Linked DNA regions of Homo sapiens: region 1 is reported to be linked to region 2. The links are microRNA targets in miRTarBase. Many come from high-throughput screens and were not tested one by one. Region 2 holds a microRNA gene; the other region holds the end of a gene's coding sequence. Distances are from middle to middle.
What was found. The annotated mature microRNA hsa-miR-4768-5p reads AUUCUCUCUGGAUCCCAUGGAU and lies in region 2 at 7,132-7,153, opposite strand. An mRNA with a match to its seed (bases 2 to 7 or 8) in the 3' UTR can be bound and repressed. Matches are read on the target gene's strand: a 7mer-m8 pairs with bases 2 to 8, a 7mer-A1 pairs with bases 2 to 7 and ends in A, and an 8mer does both.

Region 1 (10,702 bases), 140 Mb from region 2:
TCCATGAAGCTAGCTTACTTTTCCTAACAAGAAAATCCCCTTCTAGAAATGCCCATCCGCTATTTGTAAACTTTCTTAGTAAACTGATAAATAGATCATTTGCCCTTAAAACAAACTTTTAATTTCAACTCTGAAAGACATGCATATATGTCCTTCAGAATCTTACCTTTTAAAATGGAAACTGCTTGGAAGTGGCTTTTACCTGGGGAATATGACATGCATGTGTCTGTTATACTGCCTTCCTGCCAAAATAAGTGTGTCTTTAGGCACGCTCTTTGCATATTCTATTGCTAACTACATTTTGCCAGACACTGCTTGTGAATGCAGTATGTGTGAGACCACTGCCCAGCTTCCTGTAGTGCTAGTCCTACATTTCCACAGAACTCCTCACCTAGCCAAATTCTTGAGCGCTTTGCAGTCAGCAGCACTACCTGAGGCTCTGCCTGAGTGTCACTTTAGTTGTCTTGCAGAAAGCTTCAGATGTCCTTGGTTCTATTTAGGTTGTGCAAATAGACATATGAGGTTTGGTTCTGGTTAGTGGTTGCTAGTACCAGATCACCTTGCTTACTGGTGAGTTCATTCAAACCCAAAAAGTCACACCTGTGTCCTGTGCGCGGGTGCTGCAGGCTTAGGTGGAGAAAAGCAGGGCTAGAATTGGAACCCAAAGCCCAGAATGGCAGGAGAGGATGTGGGGGCTCCACCCGATCACCTCTGGGTTCACCAAGAGGGTATCTACCGCGACGAATACCAGCGCACGTGGGTGGCCGTCGTGGAAGAGGTAACTGTTTACATTTTGCTTATTTCTTTGATTTTGCTTTCAAGTAACTTGGTTTCTATTCCAGTCTCAATATTCTGAAGTCTTTGGTTTTATTTTTGATCATTCCTTTCCATTAGGAGACGAGTTTCCTAAGGGCACGAGTCCAGCAAATTCAGGTTCCCTTAGGTGACGCAGCTAGGCCAAGTCACCTTCTTACCTCCCAGCTACCTCTCATGTGGCAACTCTACCCGGAGGAGCGCTACATGGATAACAACTCTCGCTTGTGGCAGATACAGCATCATTTAATGGTACACATGTTGCTTAATTATTTTCCATTGTACTGGGACTCTCGTAACAGAGTACTCCATAAACTTTTCTTTTTCTGACAGGTCAGGGGAGTACAGGAGCTGTTGCTTAAGCTTTTGCCTGATGACTAACCTGGTATGTATTTCTATTTCTCCTCTGTCCTCCCCCTCTTTGTTTTGGCTCTATTCAGTTGTGGTGATTTTAATGATTTTTTTTTCCAGGTGCTGGGATTCTACGAAGATATGCTCCTTTGTTCTGTTCAGTATTTGGCAATCACTTCATCCACTACTGCAGTGCACCCACCCTTGGGCCTGGGGGGAGGGAGTGGGTTGAAAAACTGCTCAAGAAACAGAAGTTTAGCAAGGGTCATGAAGAATACTGCAAGTGAAACTGCAGAGAGAGGTTACGTAGGCAGAAAGCAAGTCAACAAAAGCACTTAGTCAGGATCCGTAACTTGAAATTGACTCCTTTGGAAATTGCCATAGAACCCTTAATGGACATCATCGGCTGGACCTGGGATCTGATGAATCCCACAAAAGTCAGCACCTTCTACAGAACAGATGCCCTGATCACCAAGGACTTGGTACTGATTTAGAGAGAAGAGAGCAGCTCCTAGCAGCATCAACATCTATTTGTCGCTTATTTGCCCTGCAGCAATTCACCTGCCTTTCCTTCTCCCATCCTGTAAATATCCTAGGTTTTGCTCCAGTGTTTCCCATCCCAGTACTGACCTAATTTGGATCTGCTGAGTATTTAGAGGGCTCTGAAAAGAGATATGCATTGATGAAATTAGCTACAAAGGCTTGTGGGCCTTTTTTTCTATCTGAAATCGTGTCTTCAAATTACTGGAAGTTGCTGATCAAAATTGTGGGCTCTTGAATTCATTCTCTGATTACAGATATTTTAAATAAGCTGGTTTCTATAAGAACTTCAAGAAAAACCATTTTAGCTGCTTAACTGGCACCTTTCTCAGGAAGTAATAACACCAAATATTGCTGATTCCTAGGAAAACATTTACTACTTGTAAAGAATTTCCTGAGTTAAAGTAGTTATAACAGTTTATATACATTAAAAGTAAGGTTTTACTTTAAAAAAAAAAGTCTTGGGAATAATAGCTACCATGTATTGGAGTCCTTTCCAGGCACTATTGTATGTACTTTATATACTTTATCACATTTAATCCTCCTGTCAATGCTTTGAGGTAGGTATGATTCCCATTTTATATATGAGTAATAAAAAAAGCTCAAGGAGTTTAATCATTTATCAAGGGTTTCTTCTGCGAATGATAGAGCCAGGCTGCGCCGTCGGCTCCTCTAGCCTAACGTTGGTTTACAGTATTCAAAAAGAGTTGATTGAATTCAAGGTTTTTTTTCCATGTAAAGCTATTTATATCTTCCAAGCCTAATGAAATGGATATTATAAAAATACAGTTGATTCATCCTATGTTTGGGAAGAGTATTTTTAGTGTAATTATTTTCCAGCAATTGTAAGGGCATATACTGCTTGTCTCAGAAGAAAATTCCACGTAGAGGGGCTTTAAAGTCTTTATGGAAAAAAGAAAAATAAAAATCATTTTTCTTGTTTTAGTTTTCTGGATATGCCGCAGAAGGATCCGTGCCAGAAGCAAGCCTGTGAGATACAGAAATGTTTACAAGGTAGTATATTGTAAAATGCTTTAAAAATATTTTTCCACTGTGAACTAACTATAAGAGACCAATTATTCTTTTATCTGTATTAACTCTTTTTTAAGAATGTAACGTATATGTAATTATCCTGAAGATTCTCTTCATTGTATCATCAAAGATGCAGAAAATAAAAAGTAATGTGATCAAAGCTAGGGGTTTTCACTCCAGGTGATTAGCATCACCTGGAGATCTTTAAACACTTACCTAGAACAATTCAGACTTCCTAGGGCTAGGGCTAGGAAAAAAAGGGTTTTTTGTTGTTGTTGTTTGTTTTTACTAAAAGGCTAGTTTTAAATTGGTTGGTTATACTTCACTGCAGCTGACAATTCACTTTTTAAAAGCAATCTGGAAGAGGTGCGGTTGAAATAACAATTGGAATTCAGGCTGCCAAAGTCATCAACTAACTCTTAAAGGCAGAAGTGAATCTCGACTAAAGCATATTTGAGGTGATTTGTCCATTTGTCCAGCTGCTAAGTTTGACCAAATGTTAGAGGATTTTAGTTTTCTAATCAGTGAATGACTGTTGCCAGAAGAGCAAATAGAAAAAGCTATAAGGCTATCTGAATTTGAAAAAATTTTAATAAGTTTTCCTCACTAGTAAAGTAATAGATGGAGATGGAAGGTCATGAAAATATAGAAAGGTATGAAGGAAAAATGTTCAGAGTTCCCCCAAAGATTCACCACCAAAGAAATCCTTTGTTTGTGTATCTCCTTGGACTTTTAGCTTTCATTCTTGGACTTTTCATTTTTTGATGTTAGCAATATTTTATAAAATCTTTTAGATTAAAATCTGGATGTATAATAATGCCATTTTAGTCAAACTTCTTCCCTCCAACTTTAAGGAAAAGGAAAAAGTTTTTTGCATTTAATTCCTTCTCCCAAATAAAACCTTACCTTGTTTGAAATAACCCATAGCTAAGGGAAAAAAATAAGTTAAAAAGAGCTGGTGACACCCCCTTGGCAGTGTGGGAGGATTAAGAACTGGAAAGACTAAAAGATGACAAGCACCGTTATAAGGACTTTATACGTATTAAGCCTTTCATCCATGAGGTAGATGCTACTATGACCCCCATTTCATAAAGGGGAAAACAGACACACAAGTTATGTAATTTGACTAGGGTCACATAGCTAGTAAGAGGTATGGTGGGAATTTGAACACCCCCCGCCAACCCCGCCCTTGGTCTAGCTCCAAATCTGGACTGTTACCCACCTTGCTATACTGCCTTTCTAATCAGAATTGTCTTTCCTATCCTGAGCTAACTACCATGTACTCCATTTTAGTACTGGGGGACTCATTAACTGCAGCTGACCTAGAGTCTTTAGGTCAGGTCCTCCTTAACTTAGTGTTTATGTATAGTAGGGATCTGCAAATGTTTTATGAAAAAGGCCAAACAAGTAATATTTTAGGCTTTGGAGGCCAAAGGCCTTTGTTGTATATATTGTGTATGTGTTGTGTGTTTACAACCCTTTAAAAATTAAAATCCATTTTTAGCTCCCAGCTGTAAAAACCGGCTGAATTTGACCCTAAGGCTGCAGTTTGCCAATTCCTGATGCACAGCCTTAGTAGGGGAGGTCCAACAATCAGCTTAAACTGTATGCAAAATAATGTGTGGTGTATGTGCATTTTCCTAATTCATCAAATTAGTGACCAGTAATAAAAATGATGTTAAAAACCAATGTCCTAGAAAAAGGTGCATACATGCTATTAACCTTAAAGGAAATTATATATTAAAATAGCTTTCAACCACTTTGTAAATCATACTTTCCCTAACGAACCTGTCGACAGGTCTCTAAATTAGAAAGAATTCAGTGGACTTTGGTATATCTTCTTTCTTCCAGTTCCATAGGTACTGAAAGTGAAAAGGGGTGGGAAGCACTGATCTAAACCTCCCTGTACCTTAGTCCTATGAGATCATGACTAGAGTCTGCCTGTATGTTTTTCAGCCAACAGCTACATGGAATCAAAGTGTCAGGCTGTCATCCAAGAACTGCGTAAGTGTTGTGCTCAGTATCCCAAGGGAAGATCTGTCGTCTGTTCAGGATTTGAAAAAGAAGAGGAAGAAAACCTAACACGGAAGTCTGCATCAAAGTAAAGTTCTTCTGAAGTGCTGCTCCATGTTTCCACCAAATGAATTTTTTTTATCCTCCTGACTCTTCAGGCCAGGTAGCAGCAAATAGCAAATGAAAAAGTCAGCTACAAAAGTTAATGAATATGCCATCTATGCAGAACAGGCAGAAATATAAACACATTAAAAGACAAATATGTAGAATGTAATATACTGAGCTGCTAAAATAAACCTGTTTAAGAGAAAAATTTGGGTTTTGTACTAAATGTATTTTAAGACTATTAGATATAGGGTATTAATGAATTCTCTTGAAGTTCAAGCCACTAGTGCCATTCATCAAATTTAAGTCATATGAGGTATGTTAGGTGAAAGGACTCACTTCCAGCATCACAATTTTGACGCCCTTTTTTTTTTTTTTTTTTTTTTTTTTGAGATGGAGTCTCACTCTGTCATCCAGGCTACAGTGCAATGGTGCGATCTCGGCCCACCGCAACCTCTGCCTGCCGGGTTCAAGCAATTCTGCCTCAGCCTCCCAAGTAGCTGGGATTATAGGCATGCACCACCACGCCTGGCTAATTTTTGTGTTCTTAGTAGACGGGGTTTCACCATGTTGGTCAGGCTGGTCTTGAACTCCTGACCTCGTGATCTGCCCGCCTCGGCCTCCCAAAGTGCTGGGATTACAGGCGTGAGCCAATTTTGATACCTTTTATAGATTACATGCTAAACTAATTCAAAGTTTCCTTTAAACTAACTCATTACCTTTTGTACTTCCAAAAATGCAGAGCAAAAAGTGTCTTTCCAGATGCCAGTAAGAGCATTTCTTTCTGCTTTTGCATCCCCACTGCAGCGACTAACCAGGTAGGAAAGGCATAGAAATGATTCTTGTAATGCTTAATGATCCTTAATTTATCATGAAGGAACTGAAGAAAAAATTTTCATTGGAAGTCAGGTAGGCAGCAAGATAATTCAAACTTAGTTGGTTTATCTATTCTTTATATCCTGATAATAAAAACCTGTTACAGAGGATCCAGACAACATTAATACAAAGCTGCTGAATGAAGCCTGTTGACAGCTGTCAGTCACTTTATGAAGTAGGAGGAGGCAGCATGCAACAGGCCATTTGCTTTCCTCAAATGGATGCTTGAACCACCAAAGGCTGTCCTCTAAAAAAGAAAAAGATGACTAAAAGCAGGAACAATTTCTGCTAGGTCCCTGATGTTAAAATACCATGATTATTTGAGACCAACTGTTTTCTTTAAAGCAGCATTACTCAAAGTGTTTCTAGGAATTGCTGTAACCGGAAGAAAAAAAAAAGGCTTCTCTGGTCAGGTAAGTTTGGGGAATGCTAGGTTGCATACAAGTACACAGGTTAATTTCCTGTCAGACTTCAGAGCTTTCAAAAAACCTAAGTGAACCTGTTTTGCAGACAGCATCTCTGTGTGTGAATGCTCTCCAGAGCGACTTAAAGAAATGCTGCCTTAGAGACGTTTGGTCCACAAACCAGAGTGACAGAGCTAAATCCCCATGAAATTTAAATGACGTCTTGTGTTAATAATAACACAATAAAACATCATACAACTTTAATGTTACACCATCTACAAATCTAAATTACATTTAAAATTATCAGTTGACAGTTGTACTAGGATTTACATTAGGAATCACTACATGATCAAATAGATTGTTTTTCTGTGTTTTATTGCCAAGTTATTTTTACTGAGTTAACTACTCCAGTTTCAGACTCTTTTAAATGTTTTTATGCTAAAGTATATGTATTAGTCCATTGTTGCATTGCTATAAAAAGTGCCTGAGACTCGGTAATTTATAAATAAAAGAGGTTTAGTTGGCTCACAGTTCCATGGGCTGTACAGGAAGCATGGCACTGGTATCTGATGGGCTTCTGGGGACGCCTCAGGAAACTTACAGCCATGGCAGAAAGCAAAAGGGGAGTGAGCACTCCACATGGCCAAAGCAGGAGCAAGAGAGAGTGAGGGGTGAAGTGCCAGATCTCATGAGAACTCACTATCATGAGTGAAGTACCAAGAGGGGATGGCCCCCACGATCCAATCACCTCTCACCAGGATCCACCTCCATTAGGGAATACGGTTCAACATGACATTCGGTGGCTCCAAACTGTATCAGTATACGACTTTCTTTCAGTTTTGAAAGGTTCAAATCAGTTCCTTCTTTTAAAGGATTGTGTCAGTTTAAGTCAACAAATCCATTTGAAGACATTAATTTAACTCTTCTTATTCTTAGGTATTATTATGACATACAAAAAAATAAAATAGCCATCATAGAAGGCTTAACATTTACTGAGTGCTTCTTATTGTTAGGGACCAAGAGTAACACTGAATCTCAGTCTTAAGCAAAGAACTCTAGGAAGGTGAAAACTATGATCTCCCATTTTAGAAACCAAAAAAAAAAAAAAACTTTGTTAAGTTGGCTATTAGTGATGCTAAGTTTAATCACTTGGTTAGTGACTGACAGACCTTTTAGCTAGAAAGGTAGTTTTCCCTTCGTAATGGGTAAGTCATTTGTGGGGTGATATCTTGTCACTCCTTTCCTTGCATTCACTCCACACGATTCCTAAGACATTTAATGAACTATAATATTACACTTGTGTTCAGTATTCAGAAGGCATCTGAAGTTGTATGGCACTTAATATAAAAGGCTTTAAAGCCCTCTTAAGGAGTTAACAGCAAAACTCTTAATTTTTTCAGCACCAGCTTCCAACTGTGTACTTCAGTGGTTCTCAGTCTCTGCTGCTCATTAGAAAAAGCTAAGACACTTTAAAACCTCAGGATGCCTGAACAGCACTCCAGACCAGTGAAATCAGAATCTCTAGGATGAGAGCCAGGCATTAGTAGTTTTTAAAATTTCACAGGTGATTCCCAAGTGCAAGCAAGGATGAAAGCCACTGCTCTCAGGAATGTCATTTCTTACCATTTTAAAATTTAAAAAGGTAGACACTTTTGAAAAGTCAGTAAACTGACTTTAAAGCTTTATAAAAATGTGAAAAAGTGCGACACTTTTCTTTTAAAAAAAAAAGTATTAAGATTCATGACCCCTTAAAAAGAATGCAAGCATCGGAAATATAAGCTATACCATATGACTTCTAGAAAAATCAGGCTCAGAACTAAAATAGGTTTTCTGCCCAATTACTCAGATGTTAGTGTGACCTCTTAGAAAATTGGGCAGAAAATGTATTTTAGTTCTGGGCCTGATTTCTGAGAAATCATACTAGATTTCATGACAAAGAAATGAAGCTGATAATTTGGTAGAGGGAGTAGAGGGCAGCAGCCACATTTTTCTCTGGGGTCCAAAACTGGCTGTGAGCTTCCCTCTGAGAAGAAATTGAGATCATCATGAAACATTGATGATACTCAGAAATTTCAAATCCATCAGTATACCATCTTTTCAAGCAGAGATTCCCAAACTGTACAAAAGTAGAGGTTCCAAATAAGAGCCCAACCATTAGTTATGCCCATCTTTCTGACAACCGTGAAACAAAAGAATGATGGAGAGACTATTCTTACCACAATAGTTGTTAACTACACAGTAACTTTGCTTTCCAAAACCAGAAGCACCCACCCCAAGAGCATGTTGGCTAGAATTATGCAAGAGATCATTCCTTGTAGAATCTAGTCCGCCAACTTGAATCGTCTTCTGCCAGCATCCATGAGACAGTAACTGCCCAGATCCAGTAGCAAGGACTGTCACCCCAGTGGTAGGGGAGTCAAGAACCCCACTGTCCTGTTAATGAATGTCTGGAGGCTGAGTGGCGGGAGATTGCAACAAACAAGCGGCCATTTGGGAGGAGAGTCATGCTAACATATTATCACAATGGCAATAACACTCATGACAATGGGCTGCTCAGGCAAGGGTCCCCACCACCACATCTCTCCCCGCACCCAGCTCCCGTGTCAGCAATGAGGATACACATTCTTGGGGGAGACTGAAACATTGGACTCCATCTGTTGAGCCCGAGCAGGCAGCGGCCAGAAAGTGCCCCTGGATCCGTCTCTGCTCTCCGACTCTGGGGAGAACCTTGGGAAGAAGAGACTCAAAAGTTCTACCTCTCCTGTAGCATGCTCCAAGTCCCCATCCCACCAGGTCCCATTGCGGGAGAGACGCTGGGTCAAAGGGTGGCTCAAAGTGGTGAGGACGCAGGGCCGACCCATAGTAGCCAGGAAGGGGACAGAAGGGGTCCCTGAGCCGGGACACTGTCCAGCACGCTGCAGGACAAGGGAAGGGAAGCCTTCACTACGTAGATGCCATCCTATTGGTTGACAAGTTGGAAGCCTTGAGTGCGGTGTTACCACGTCGCCGCCACAAGGGGGCGATGAAACCCCGAACACATTCCAAGTCAAGTTTCTGCGGACCATATACAGCGACAACGCTCTTCCCAAGGAAAAACTTCCGCCCCACCACCACTAATTAGGAAGTCCAGAGCGTCATTGGACTCTGCTACTGGAGAAAATACGTGCCTAGCTAAGCAGGCCTCTCCAGTCAAATGAAAGTAGTGCACTGAAAGGTGGAGCTGCCTGGTCCTTGAATCATCTCGGTTTTGCATGGAGGAGTGGCAGCTGTTCTTTTGGGGGAAACCTTAACTCCCACTTCACCACCTGAAACAAAACTGCTGGCACAATAGGGCCTTGATTCACAGGTAACCCCAAATGCCTGAGCCTCCTTCACCGATGGTTCAGCTAAACTGAAAACAAGGTGTGCAGCTGTGCGTGTTCAACCTCCATGCCAGCTCTGCACAATCCCAAGTGGTCACAGTGGCCTCACACCGTGGGCAGAACTCACAGCCGTTCTCATACTAGCAGGATGAGGCCAACCTGCAATACTGACCTCAACCATGACCCTCACAGTCGTAGAGGCAGCCAGCTGGGAAAAAACTTCAGGAGGGACCTACCTACAGATCTTAATTCAGACAATCAGAATACAGTCTGAGGCCAGACTATTTATTACAACCTACTCAAGGTAGTTTACAACCACCTGCTAATCTTTGCTGCCCTCACCAATAATCACAGGAAAAACAGATGCACCAAAAGACAACCCCTACCCCACTGGAGAGGCATTGGGTGGCCAGTCTCCCCACATGCAACCCAAAGGGGCACAGAGCACTTTGGTTAGCTTTGCTGTTACCATCCCATTGCTGTGGGTAAGTCACACAGGTAAAGTGGCTGCAGCCACTATCACCATATATGGCATAACCCAGAGACCCAGATGTCAGGAGAGGCAGAGTGTGGGGAAGCAGGAAACAGATGACTCAGTGTCACTACATATGTCTATATCAATATATATAGAGATATAAATATATAGCAAGCAAAAAAAAAAAAATAGAGGAGGATCTATAAGGTTAAGAGACTTATCCAAATCATGCAAATACGATGTGAACCTTGCATGAATTTTGATTCAAACAAACTAAATATAAAACACTTGAGGAAATTTTGAACACTGATCAGATTTTGGATATTATGTAATTACTGTTAATGTCTGATATGATGAGGTATTTATGATTTTTAGAAATAATTCTTACCTTTTAGAGATACATACTGAAATATGATAAAATGACATTTTGATATTTGTTTCACAATAACTGGTAAAAACCAGCAGAGCTATAATTTGATGATTGTTGTGAGTGAGTGATAGATACACAGGGGGATTATTGTACTATATTCTCTACTTTTATATATTCCTGAAAGCGTCCATAATAAAAAGTGAAAAAAAATAAGTTCTTATAGCAAAATATGCAGCAAAGAGGCTCATACCATTATGGTTTTGAGATGATTCATACATATTGCAAGCAAAATGGCTTATGTTTCCTTAAATGTAAGGAGAAAAACGCAAATAGGTGGTTTCTGTAAAGTTCCACACATCCA
Region 2 (11,303 bases):
AAAAGGGGGAGCAAAAATAACATTTGAAGGAATTCAAAGAAGAATGAAACCTATGTATTTTCTGAAATTGTTGAACTCCAATAAAACTTTAATATCAACCTGTTCTTTGAACTGAACTCACATTTTTATTTATTTTGAGTCTCTGGCTCCCACTGTCGCCCACCTCTTCAACTTTTACCTTTATCACTTCCTTTAGGAAAACAAAAAAGAAGGCAACATGTCATGAAATTGTTAGAGGGATACTGTCTCTGCATGCATATGTCTCTGTGTTTGTGTTCGGTTAATTAAAAAAAAAAAACACCTAGCAATTTAATGGTTTAAGAACATTGTTTCCAAAGGGGATGAATTATTTACCAAATATTTATTGCCCTCCATGCAAGTCCTAACAGGAAATACCAAAACAATTGACCCAGGCACTATTATCCAAGGGCTGACCTTCTGGAGAAGGGGTTGCATCTAAAGCATAATTAGCTAAAATAAAGGTTAAATGTAGAAAACTCCATAAAACGAGGTAGAGGCAAAGTGATATAAAAGCATAGAGGAAGAGTGGATTGCTCCCAAGTGGGAAAATGCATTCATTCAACAAATATTCATTCATTGTTCATTCAACAAATATTTATTGAGTATCTATTACATGCTAGGCACTATGTTTGGTACTGTGTACAAAGCAGTAAGGAAGACACACTCAGGCACAGCTTCATAGAAGAGATGGTATCTGAGCAGGGCCAACAGCCATGAGTGGACAGAACATAGGATAAGAATAACAACAAACACAGCTAAGCACTGACTAAGCACCTTTCTAATATATTACATTTGTCAACCTATTTAATCCTCCCAACAACCACATGAGGTAGGTAGTATTCTTATTTCTATTCCACAGATTAGAAAAGTTAAATTGTTTGTCCAGGGTCACACAAAGCTGTGTTTACCCCCTGGGTAGTGTAGCTTCATAGCTGTCATCCTTATCCACTATACTCTAAATCACGGATGGTCTTGAATTCCAGAGCAAGGCATTTCAAGTTCAGTCTTTGCCAATGGTGGGAGCCACTGCTATACATGGGATGAAGACACATAAATGAAACTGGGAGCCTAAACCTGCTGGTAGTATAAGTCCAGGGAGGTATTCTACCCCAAGTTCAAGTAAGTTCAACAAAATGGGAGAAAATTGTTCTATGTGCTCCAGGAACATAAGTGACGAAGCTCTTAGTTGGCTCTGCTTGCGTCATGGAAATCCACACCAGAAGGCCATTTGTCAGTGAAATTGCACTAAGACCCTTTTGTCATTTTACAATTAAATCCCCTGGGAAAGTGTTCTCATATGGAAAGCAGAGGTTTAACATCAGCCTGATCTGATATTAAATTCAGTATTCTGTTTTAAAGGTACTTTCCCCTCAGTGTGCCATGCCCCTCACCATCACTACACACACTCCTCACATTCTCCATGGGATAGATGAATTATTGGAGTCCACCAAGCATCTTACTACACTGTTGAGTTTAGGAAAAAGCATACCCCTTCAATCACAGCCAGTCACAGCACAAATAACAGACTATGCAACTAAGGACCAAATTAAAGGGGGCTGGCAACCACAAGCCTACAACTTGGGCCATTGTTTGGGGAAATAAACCTAGGAAAGGCAGTTCCAGATGAGACAGCAGCTAACCAAGCTGAACAGCTGGATTTTGTTCCCCACAGATACAGAGTTGACAGTCCACCAAGCACTCTAGTGGGTCATATTTCGTAGGAATCCCTTATGAGAGGTTAAAAATAAAAAATCCTAGTTCTGGCCAGGGTCACAGACCCAGGAGGGCCAGTAGTCTCTGGAAAATGAGGCCTCAAAGGGCTGAAGAAGATAAACTTGTTACACTCATAAAAATGGCACTGCCAGCCTGGGCACTGCTGAGATCCATTGATGTCTACCCCATAAGAAGTTATTCTCCCTACCTTTCCTAACTTCAGACCTCATGGGACAATAACAAGTCAAAAATGCATAATCTATTCCTCCAAGGGTTAAACATGGAGTTATCATATGACCCAGAAATTCCACTCCTTAGGTATATAAGAGAAGAAATGAGAACATATGTCCACACAAAGACTTGCACACAAATATTCATAGCATCACTATTCATAATAGCAAAAAGGTGGGAACAGCTCAAATGTCCATCAATGAATAAATGGACAAATAAAATGTAGTATATCCATAGAATGGAATGTATTTAATCCATAAAAAGGAATGAAATACTGATACATGCTACAACATAAATGAACCTTGAAAACATCATGCTAAGGGAAAGAAGTCAGACACCAAGGATCACATATTGTGTGACTGCATTTATATGAAATGTCCAGAATAGGCAAATCTTTGAAAACAAAAAGTACATCGGTGGTTGTCAGAGGCTGCGGGGAGGAGTAAATGGGGAGTGACTACAAATGGATGTAGTAATGGCTACACAACTGTGTGAATACACTAAAAACCACTAAACTGTACGCTTTAAATGGGTGAACTATATCTTAATAAAGCTGTTATTTTTAAATGTTTTTTAAAATAAACATTTTACGCTATAAATGTTTAGCACCCAATAAATAAGGAAAGAAAGAGAGAGAGAGAAAGAAAGGAAGGAAGGAAGGAAGGAGAAAGAAAGGAGAAAGAAAGAAAAAAGAAAGAAAGAAGGAAAGAAAGAAAGAAGAAAAAGAAAGAAAGAAAGAGAAGAAAAAGAAAGAAAGAAAGGAAAGAAAGAAAGAAAGAAAGAAAGAAAGAAAGAAAGAAAGAAAGAAAGAAAGAAAAAGAAAGAGGGGAGGGAGGGAGGGAGGGAAGGAAGGAAGGAAGCAAGGAAGGAAGGGAGGGAGGGGAGGGAAAGAAGGGAAGGAAGAAGGGAAGGAAGGAGAAAGAAGGAAGGAAGGCAGGGAGGGAGGGAGGGATGGAGGAAAGGAAGGAAGGAAGGAAGGAAGGAAGGAAGGAAGGAAGGAAAAATATGTGCATAATCTGAATCTGAGATCATTTTGGGTGTTCATAGCCATGAACCTCTTTCATGAGGCTTGCAGCCTTCAGCCAAGTTAACCAAAGTGGTTACAGTGAGGGGGAAAAGGCAGCAAGTGCTGTAGGTCAAGCTGCAATGTCAGGCATGGAAGGAGGAGACTGGGCCCAAGGGTCCCCCAAACAGCACTGGTGAGAAGTTCCGTGATGCCACCTAGAGAACATTCTCACCACAAACACCCAAAATGATCCACATGGGGTAGAAAAATGGGAAGGCCATTATATAATTATTAATGCTAACAGCAACTCAGCAATAACCTGACCCTAGGATCAGAGTCAACAATTTACTATGGGCCACAGCTCAAAGGGGACAATAGCTCTCTCTGCACCATTCTTTTCTAATGCATGGATCCTGGGTTTGCCTGATCCCCCCAGTGTGGGAACAGCCACAGGATTCCAACGGCTGTTTTCTCTCCATCAAACATTTGCTTATTTTTCTCATCTTAAGTCTTGTGATTGGTAGGACACATGCCTAACAGACGATAAAAGATTCCGTGCATGTGTGTTTCAGACAAAAAACAGAATTAAATTATAAGACTGGCCTAAAAACCAATAAAGTTCCCCTTCTTCAATTTCTCCAAAGGTCTTACTGGATTTTGATACCCAGCAAGGGTCCTCAGACACCTTGGAATTGCCCGCAGGAATACTTGATGACGCCGTGGATCAAATCAAAGAGAATTAAACATTAAAGCACTTGGAAAACATTGCAGGTCTGCAATGGTTTGATCTGTATAGCGCGCGCGCACGTGTGCACACACACACACACACACACACACACACACACATCCCCCAGTACACACAGGCAGATGCATCTTTTCTTTAGCAGACTTCATTATCCTTTCTTTAGGAACTTCCCCCCTAATAAGGAGTTGATTTCCAAGGATAACATTGGAAGTTGCTTGCCATCCCTTCTTCTGAAAATCTCTATAGAATTCCACAAGTGTGTGCGTCTTCGTTATCAACAATGACTATTGTTGTCTCCATTGGTCATCTCAACATCACCAATGCCTGGTGTAGTGCCTGATGCGCAGTTGGATTAAATAAATATTTGATAAATTTAATTGCAGTTGGAATTCAAGAGGAGATGAGGGAACAGGCAAAAGCTTTGGTTGTGGTGAATTGGGGCTTAATGACTCTTATTTATAAACACACACACACAGAGAGAGAAAGAGAGAGAGAGAGAGACATGTGCATTCAAGGAGATAAAAAGGCTGGAAACCAGGAAGTTCCAAAAGGGCATTAATTGATTCTCCAACTCAACTTTCTTAAACTTGGGCTCACCTACCACTGGGGTCCCCAGAGACTTTCTGGCAGTATGTAGGTATATGGATAGCTTTAAGAGATTCAGTTTCCATATTTTCTGCTTCCATATGCATGCCTCCCAAAGCTGACCTGCCATCTCTGTGGCAGCTCTGCTTCTCCATATTCCCTTTTTCACAGCTGCCTTCCTCCTCCTTTAATAAAGAAAGGGAAATTGCCCACCTATTCTCAATCTTATGAGGATGCATTTTCCTAAGGAGTAAAAATCTCCCCAGCCCCAAACCGAGGTATCATTTGAGTCAGCATCACTTTAGAAGGAAAATTCCCAGGGCAAAGAAAGAACATTTCAAAAAAATTTGAAGGCCACAGTGCCATATTTTATTCAGGCAACAAATTCATAGCACAGCTTTGTGCCTTATATATCTATCTGGCCAGCCAGCTGCCTACTTATCCTAAAACCAGAACTCAGAAGGATGAAGATTGGCCAAGTACACATGTTAACACATTCACCTGAATCAATGAAGAAACCCCTTTCTTTATACTGACTAAAAGTTAATCTGGCTTGGCTGATGGTTTGACAATAAGAAATGACTTTGCAGTTAGGTCACGTACCCTGATCTAATAATTTTTTCATAAATTGAAAGGTTTTAATGAAGATATACTTAAAGCATGTATATGATATACACCAGTGCTCCTCAGACTTAAATGTGCATGTGAATCACCTGGGAATCTTATTAAAATGCTTATTCTGATTTAGTGGGGCTGGAGAGAGACCCAAGATTCTGCATTTCTAACAAGCTGCCAGGGGATGCTGATGTTGCTGACCCGTGCATCAGACTTTGAGCTGTGAGAATACACAATGTGCTGGAAAATATACTTTTGTGATGAATTCAACTTACGATTAGAAAATTCAGATATCAAATGTAAAATACACAAGGGGTGCTTGATTTTTTAAAAAATATATTCTTAGGAAGTATTCCAACAAGAAAAGATGGTAGACCTCCAATGTGGGTCACAGCTGGCAGTCTGACCCCAAGAAGTTTGAACCCAGCCTCTATTATCTGTGCAAGACAGAACTGTACTTCTGCTTTGGAGTTAATCCCAGAAGAATTTATTTCTTTTCCAGCCCTTCACATAGCTTGTGCTTTATGGTGGCAGACTCAATGGACCAAACCTTCAGCTGTGGGAATCATGGCTTCAGCCATTGAACACACACAGCCCAGTCAGCTGGCAGAGTGGACAATAAACCTACAAACACTCAGCAAGTCACTCAGGTTCTTGATTCAAGAGTAAATGGCTTCATAAACACAATCATAACAACAGCGGCATGAGTTGGTGCATGTCAATGTGTACATTTCGGTAGAGAGGGCCCAGAGACACGTATTTTGGCAGATGCTAGGTCTTGGCAAGACTGTAAGCAAAATCACAAAGCAGCCCAAGTCTGTGGTCAGTCCCAACTTCCTATCAGTACACCTTTTCCATCCAGGCACCCCATAAAGGTGGATTTGGTCTCTTCCACATTCCATTAAGTGTAGCCTCAATTCCCAACAAAAACCCACACCACACCTCTTTTAAGGAATTTTATAGGAAAACTTTACCTAAACATGTATCCCCAAATCCTCTGAACTAGCAAAATCCTATTCAGGTTTATCTCCATGTCAGAGAGATGGGAAATATATCAAGTTCTGTCAGCAGGTCAGCCAGGCCGAGCATGCCAAGTGATCTGGGGTTATAGACAGCAGATTAATCTCAAAGCTGGAACTTCTTTAAGACCAGGAAGTAGCCCCTTTTCTGATTAAAAGACAAGTCAATAATTCTGGGTCCTTGGTCCACCACTGTGATATGTCCCTTGCAAAACAGGCACTCTCAGGCAGTCTTCCCTGCAGAGCAACCATGATGGATACTGACTACTGACTTGAAAGTGCTTTGACACCCCCAGATGGAAGGAACTAATCAATTATGCTTCTCACTTAGAGGCACCCTGCTCATTCATGCTGAAGATAGAAGTCCAGATAAAAGTAGAATTACTGGGAGTCCAAGATCCAGAAAGAAAATGAGAGAGCTCAGCTGGTCACTGTGAATGATGTGCATGTGCCCCAAGCCTTTGAAACACATGACATTTTCCAGCAGCCAAGCACTCATCAAATTGCAGAATGTCGAAGCTACAAGGAAACTTAGCAATTATTTAATGATCTAAATTACTTTTATTATAGTGAAGAGGAAGCTGAGGCCTAGAGAGGTAAAATAACCTGTCATATAGCTGAGCAGCGAAAGGAACAGACTCATTACCCTAGTGATCTCCTGTCACACAACCCATCTCATGAAGCTCTCTCTCAGGTCGAGTTTAATAGATGAGAGAACAAGGGGTAGTCTGCCTATGCAAAGCAGGTACACACAATGAGATCAGAGCAAAGGGGATTTCCTCCCCTGAAGCTAAACAGCCCCCATAAGTGATGTTACGTGTTAGGATAATTTCCTTGGTGTGCTGGAAGATGTTTCACAAGCATGGGTGGTGGGGACCCTTATTTGCCATATTTGCCAATTTCTATAGTGTAAATACTCTCATCATGGCAGATTTCAAGCTACCAACTTGATGCCACTGAACAGCAGTTGGGGAGAGATATGTGCAATCAGCTCTTGTGAGCTGATAGAAGCTGGATCCTCCACACCACTGGAATTTCTGAGAAGTCTACATCACGGGTTTAGGAATGAAATAACTTTCTGGCCCACAAGAATAAAACACCCAGGTTTATGAGGAAAATCCTAGCAGCACACACTCTAGGTTTCACTCACTGAAACTCTGATTCTCTCTGGATCTCCTGGACATCACAGTTCCCATATCCATGGGATCCAGAGAGAATCAAAGTTTGGAGAAGTTACTTGGTCCATCATGTCTGTATCTCTGGGTAGTATCCTACCTAATTGATCCAAGGCAGGAGCACTGAGAGGTGGAATCCACATTCCCTATCTTAATGCTTTTGGCAACCAAGCATTCCTTTCCCAGCAGTAACAGGATCCAGTTTCCAAGGTGATATGTGAGCTCAGAGCCCCATCTTTACCAACGTCAAAGGCAGTGCTTGGATTCAGCTTCAGGTAGGCCTCCTCTGTTCATGTAAGCAGGAAGGAAAACATGTAAAACTGAATTCCTCCTCAATTTCTTTCTTTCTTTCTTTCTTTCTTTTTTTTTTTTTTTTTTTTTTTTTTTTTTTTTTTTTTTTTTTTTTTTTGGCTGAGAAGAGTTCCAAGGCTGGGGCAGCAACTCATCAGGAAAAGTTCTTAGCCTGTGCTTTCTTTTTGCCAAACATTGATTTGCTAATAGAGAAAATAACTGGTGTATAAACAAAAGTGGTTGATGACATCCAAGGGTCTGGAGCAATTCCTCCACATCGTTCTGACAGCTAACAAATGGAACTAGCTCTTAGGGAGCATGTTTAAGGAACAGCTGGAATATGTAACGGACATTTTTCTGTGAATTTGACAGGTCAAGCTCCATCACGGTTGAGCTACGCTCACCGGACGTGGATCAGAATGAACTCTGCCATTCCTCAGAAGGTTGCCAAGAGGGCTTTGAAGAGAAGGGAATCCAAGGAACTCAGTTTCAGACATGGAGAAGAATAAAGACCAGACAAATCATGAGCAAACCTGATTTAAAGAGAAAGATCTATAAATACCAGTTGCTCAGCTTTCTCCCTGGTTTCCTGACCCTATGATGAGCTCCACCAAAATTAAGTAAGTATAGCCCTTTCCAGAGGGTCACTTGGAGGGAAGATCCTGCCATATGTCGCCTATTGGTCTTTAGCCTCACCACCACCCCAACATCTGATAAAGTCAACAGACGTGAGTTCCTAAAGGATACAGAATATACAAGATACTTTCCCTTATACAAGGATTCACTCTAAGCATCGTTAAAATGGCAAACTCACCTGGGACCCCTAAGATAACCTGATTTACCAAAATCTGGTTTATCCTTAGCATATGAGGAGCACATCCATTCTCTAAAGCAAGGAGATTTTCAAGATCAATGAGCAGAGAAACTTCTCAAAAGAATTTTATAGAATTTTTTAAGATAACAAGCAAACTAACAAATGATTGAGTAAACCTGGTACTATTCCTTTTCTTCTTCCAAACTCAAGGGAGTTATTCCAAACAATAACATACCTAGAAAAGAACCTGTGAAGATTGCAAGATTATCTAAAGAAGCCACCGGGGCAAGAGCGGTGGACATGCTTCTCCACACGGCCCTGCACCCAGACCACTCATTGTGAACTCCACCCAAATGCATAAACCTTTGGGAAGCAAAGGATGAATTGATTAGCTGCAATCTGTAGGCCCAATCAATCCATCTCCACACTGTAGGGACCTGCACAGAATCTCTCCTTAAAGTCTAGTCTTTCATGAGGAGAAATTCACCTCATAAAAGACATGATCAGAAGACATGACAGCCTGGAGGAGCAAACTACTGCTAGGTCAGTGGAAGTTCTCCTCCTGTTTGTGAAAGTGAGGAGAAAAGCACAGAGCATTTGTCCCTCAGCTTGTCTCCCTTGCAGTCTTCTCACTTATTATAATTCAAAAATTACCTCCATTTCAAGGAATCCTTCTCCTTCAGAGCTTTCAGCTCAAGGTGGCCTGGTTTGATCTCTCCTGACACCACTTCCTCCCTCCACCCCAAAGTAGATTAGGATCACCTTGGATAACCACCAGAACTTGATGATTAAAACATTCAGAGCAAAAAGATCTTCAGAGGTCATGCCAACTGATAAGCCAAGTTAGTAGCAAGGCATAAAATAAGGCATTACTGTCTTTGTTCTGTGCTGATCCATGCATTGTCCTACCTACCATGCCAGCACTTTGGTCTGTGAAATATGCAGAAAAGGCAAGAGAAACACAACTGCTGACAAGAGGATGAGGAAAGGAAGAGCACTTCCAGCAGGCATTCGCTGCCTTGCCTTAATACTTAGCACTTCCACAAGCCTTTTCATCTTCAAAGCACTTGAGGAACACTAGCTAATTAATCCTCCCAACATCCCTGCAAGGTGAGGAAGGATTATCTCCATTTTACAGATGGAGAAATGGAATATTTTGAACACAGGCATAAAACCCAGTGACAGATAGAATTGCCAGAAACTGGGCTGGGATCCTTCCTGGTGTCTTTGATGCCCACTCAAGCCTGCCAAGGTATCTCATCCCCAACCTGAGGACTGCCAAAAGCTCCTAACCAGGATCTAGCCGAGCAGACAGAGGGCCAGAGGCAAGACAGACAAGGCTCTCATGCTAACCCTTCCAAGTCTCTAATTAATTCATTATCTCACTGGACTGTCTGGTTAGGGGAGGCCTCTTTTGAAGCTTAGATGGAGGAGGAGGAGATGCCTGCTCAAGTCTTCTTCTAAGCAATGATTCGATATTCCTCTCTTATATCTTCACCCTGGTTGATATTTTAAACCATTGATGAAGACAGCACATGCAATGATAGAAATCCACATTAAATCCTTCCTGGAACCAAGGCAGGTTCTAAACAAATACATGAAAAGCCATTGGCACAGTGCTTTTATTATTCAAGTTTTCTCATATTTTGAGACAGGACTTTCTCTTAATCAAACATCAGCTGCAAATGCCAGTTGGAACCCTGATCAAAACCTCCTAATTAAATGCAGTGTAGGAATTTCATGTCTATCCCAGGCCTATTACTCAAGGCATGGTTCCAAACTGTGGTGGTCTTAGAATTTCTTGGATTTTTCAAAACGTCTAAAAATCACTTGGAGATTCAGACTGCTAGTGCATTTTCAGAATTGCCACTTTGAAGTTTGACCCAGTTACCCTGTCAGTAGCTATCATCAAATCTTACCAATTTCTACCTTTTTTTCATAATATTACCCACCCCTAGAAATGAAAACTGTGTGCTTCACTCAACCAAGTACATAACAAATAAAGAACTTGGAGCCCACCTTCCCTACTCGTCCAAAGTGTCTCATAGGTTCTTCTTATCAGAAAGTACCCAAAAAAGTTTGTGAAATAAAATGTAGAAAGCAGTGGCAGTAGGTTTATGACAGTGACTCTCAACTGAGGGTAATTTTGCCTCACCAGGGATATTGGCAATATCTGAAAACATTTTTGGTGTCATAACTGGACAAAAGAGGAGTAGATACCACTGGTACCCAGTGAGTGGAGAACAGGGGTGTGGCTAAACATCCTACAGTGCACAGACAGCTCCACAGCAAAGAATGATCCAGCCCCAAATGTCAGTAGTGCTGAGGGTGGGAAACCCTGGATTTGAAAAGAACCATCGAGAAGAGACACATGCTAAGCATATAGAGGGTTTTCGATAAAAACCTATAGATTGATGGATTGAATCATTAGCTGCCCTATCACTGGGACCAACTCCTGTTGCCAAAACAAAGTCAGACAAACCCAACTAACAACAACTCAGTTAGCAATTCCACTTTTTTAGAACCTAAGTAGAATCCTGATAGTTTTGTTACCCCAGTCTGTGAATAAAAGCATAAGGTTTATTTACTTTAGAAGTCTCATAGGCATAATATTGATCAAAAGAACCCAACACAAAAGATACATATTATTATTGTACGATTCCATTTATATGAAGTTCAAAAACAAACAAAATAAATCTATGATAACAGAGGTCTGAATAGTAGTTACTGTTGTGAAAGGCGAGGTATGAGTATTGACTGAAAAAGGTGCATGAAGGAACTTTTTGGATCACTGGAAATGTTCTATATCTGTATCTGATTTGTGGTCCCATAGATGTGTACACACATCAAAATTTGTCAAGCCATACACTTAAGATTTATTCACATTACTGTATGTCAGTTATATCTCATTTTTTGAAAAGGAAAACATTAATTAAAAATAAAAAGTAGAGGCCGGGCGCGGTGGCTCACGCCTGTAATCCTAGCACTTTGGGAAGCTGAGGTGGGCGGATCACCTGAGGTCAGGAGTTCAAGACCAGCCTGGCCAACATGGTGAAACCCTGTCTCTACTAAAAATACAAAAATTAGC

Region 1: the mRNA of CMC4 is a reported target of hsa-miR-4768-5p. Seed matches in the 3' UTR shown: 7mer-A1 at 5,054-5,060.

What each region holds. Positions count from the first base shown.
Region 1 is chrX:155,055,982-155,066,683 of GRCh38, reverse strand. It overlaps CMC4 (C-X9-C motif containing 4), which reads left to right. Exons shown (of 3, transcript NM_001018024.3): 2 at 2,651-2,718; 3 at 4,693-5,062. The coding sequence starts at 2,661. The coding sequence ends at 4,841. FUNDC2 (FUN14 domain containing 2) reads right to left here. Exons shown (of 5, transcript NM_023934.4): 5 at 6,380-10,702. It overlaps MTCP1 (mature T cell proliferation 1), which reads left to right. Exons shown (of 5, transcript NM_001018025.4): 2 at 627-778; 3 at 895-1,065; 4 at 1,147-1,198; 5 at 1,285-2,650. The coding sequence starts at 674. The coding sequence ends at 1,194. Among named protein-coding and RNA genes, the nearest start is that of CMC4, 9.8 kb to the left of the region's middle. RefSeq lists enhancers at 8,956-9,250, 8,915-9,416.
Region 2 is chrX:17,421,739-17,433,041 of GRCh38, reverse strand. MIR4768 (microRNA 4768) reads right to left here and starts at 7,161; the gene lies at 7,088-7,161. The region is part of intron 1 of NHS (NHS actin remodeling regulator); the gene reads right to left.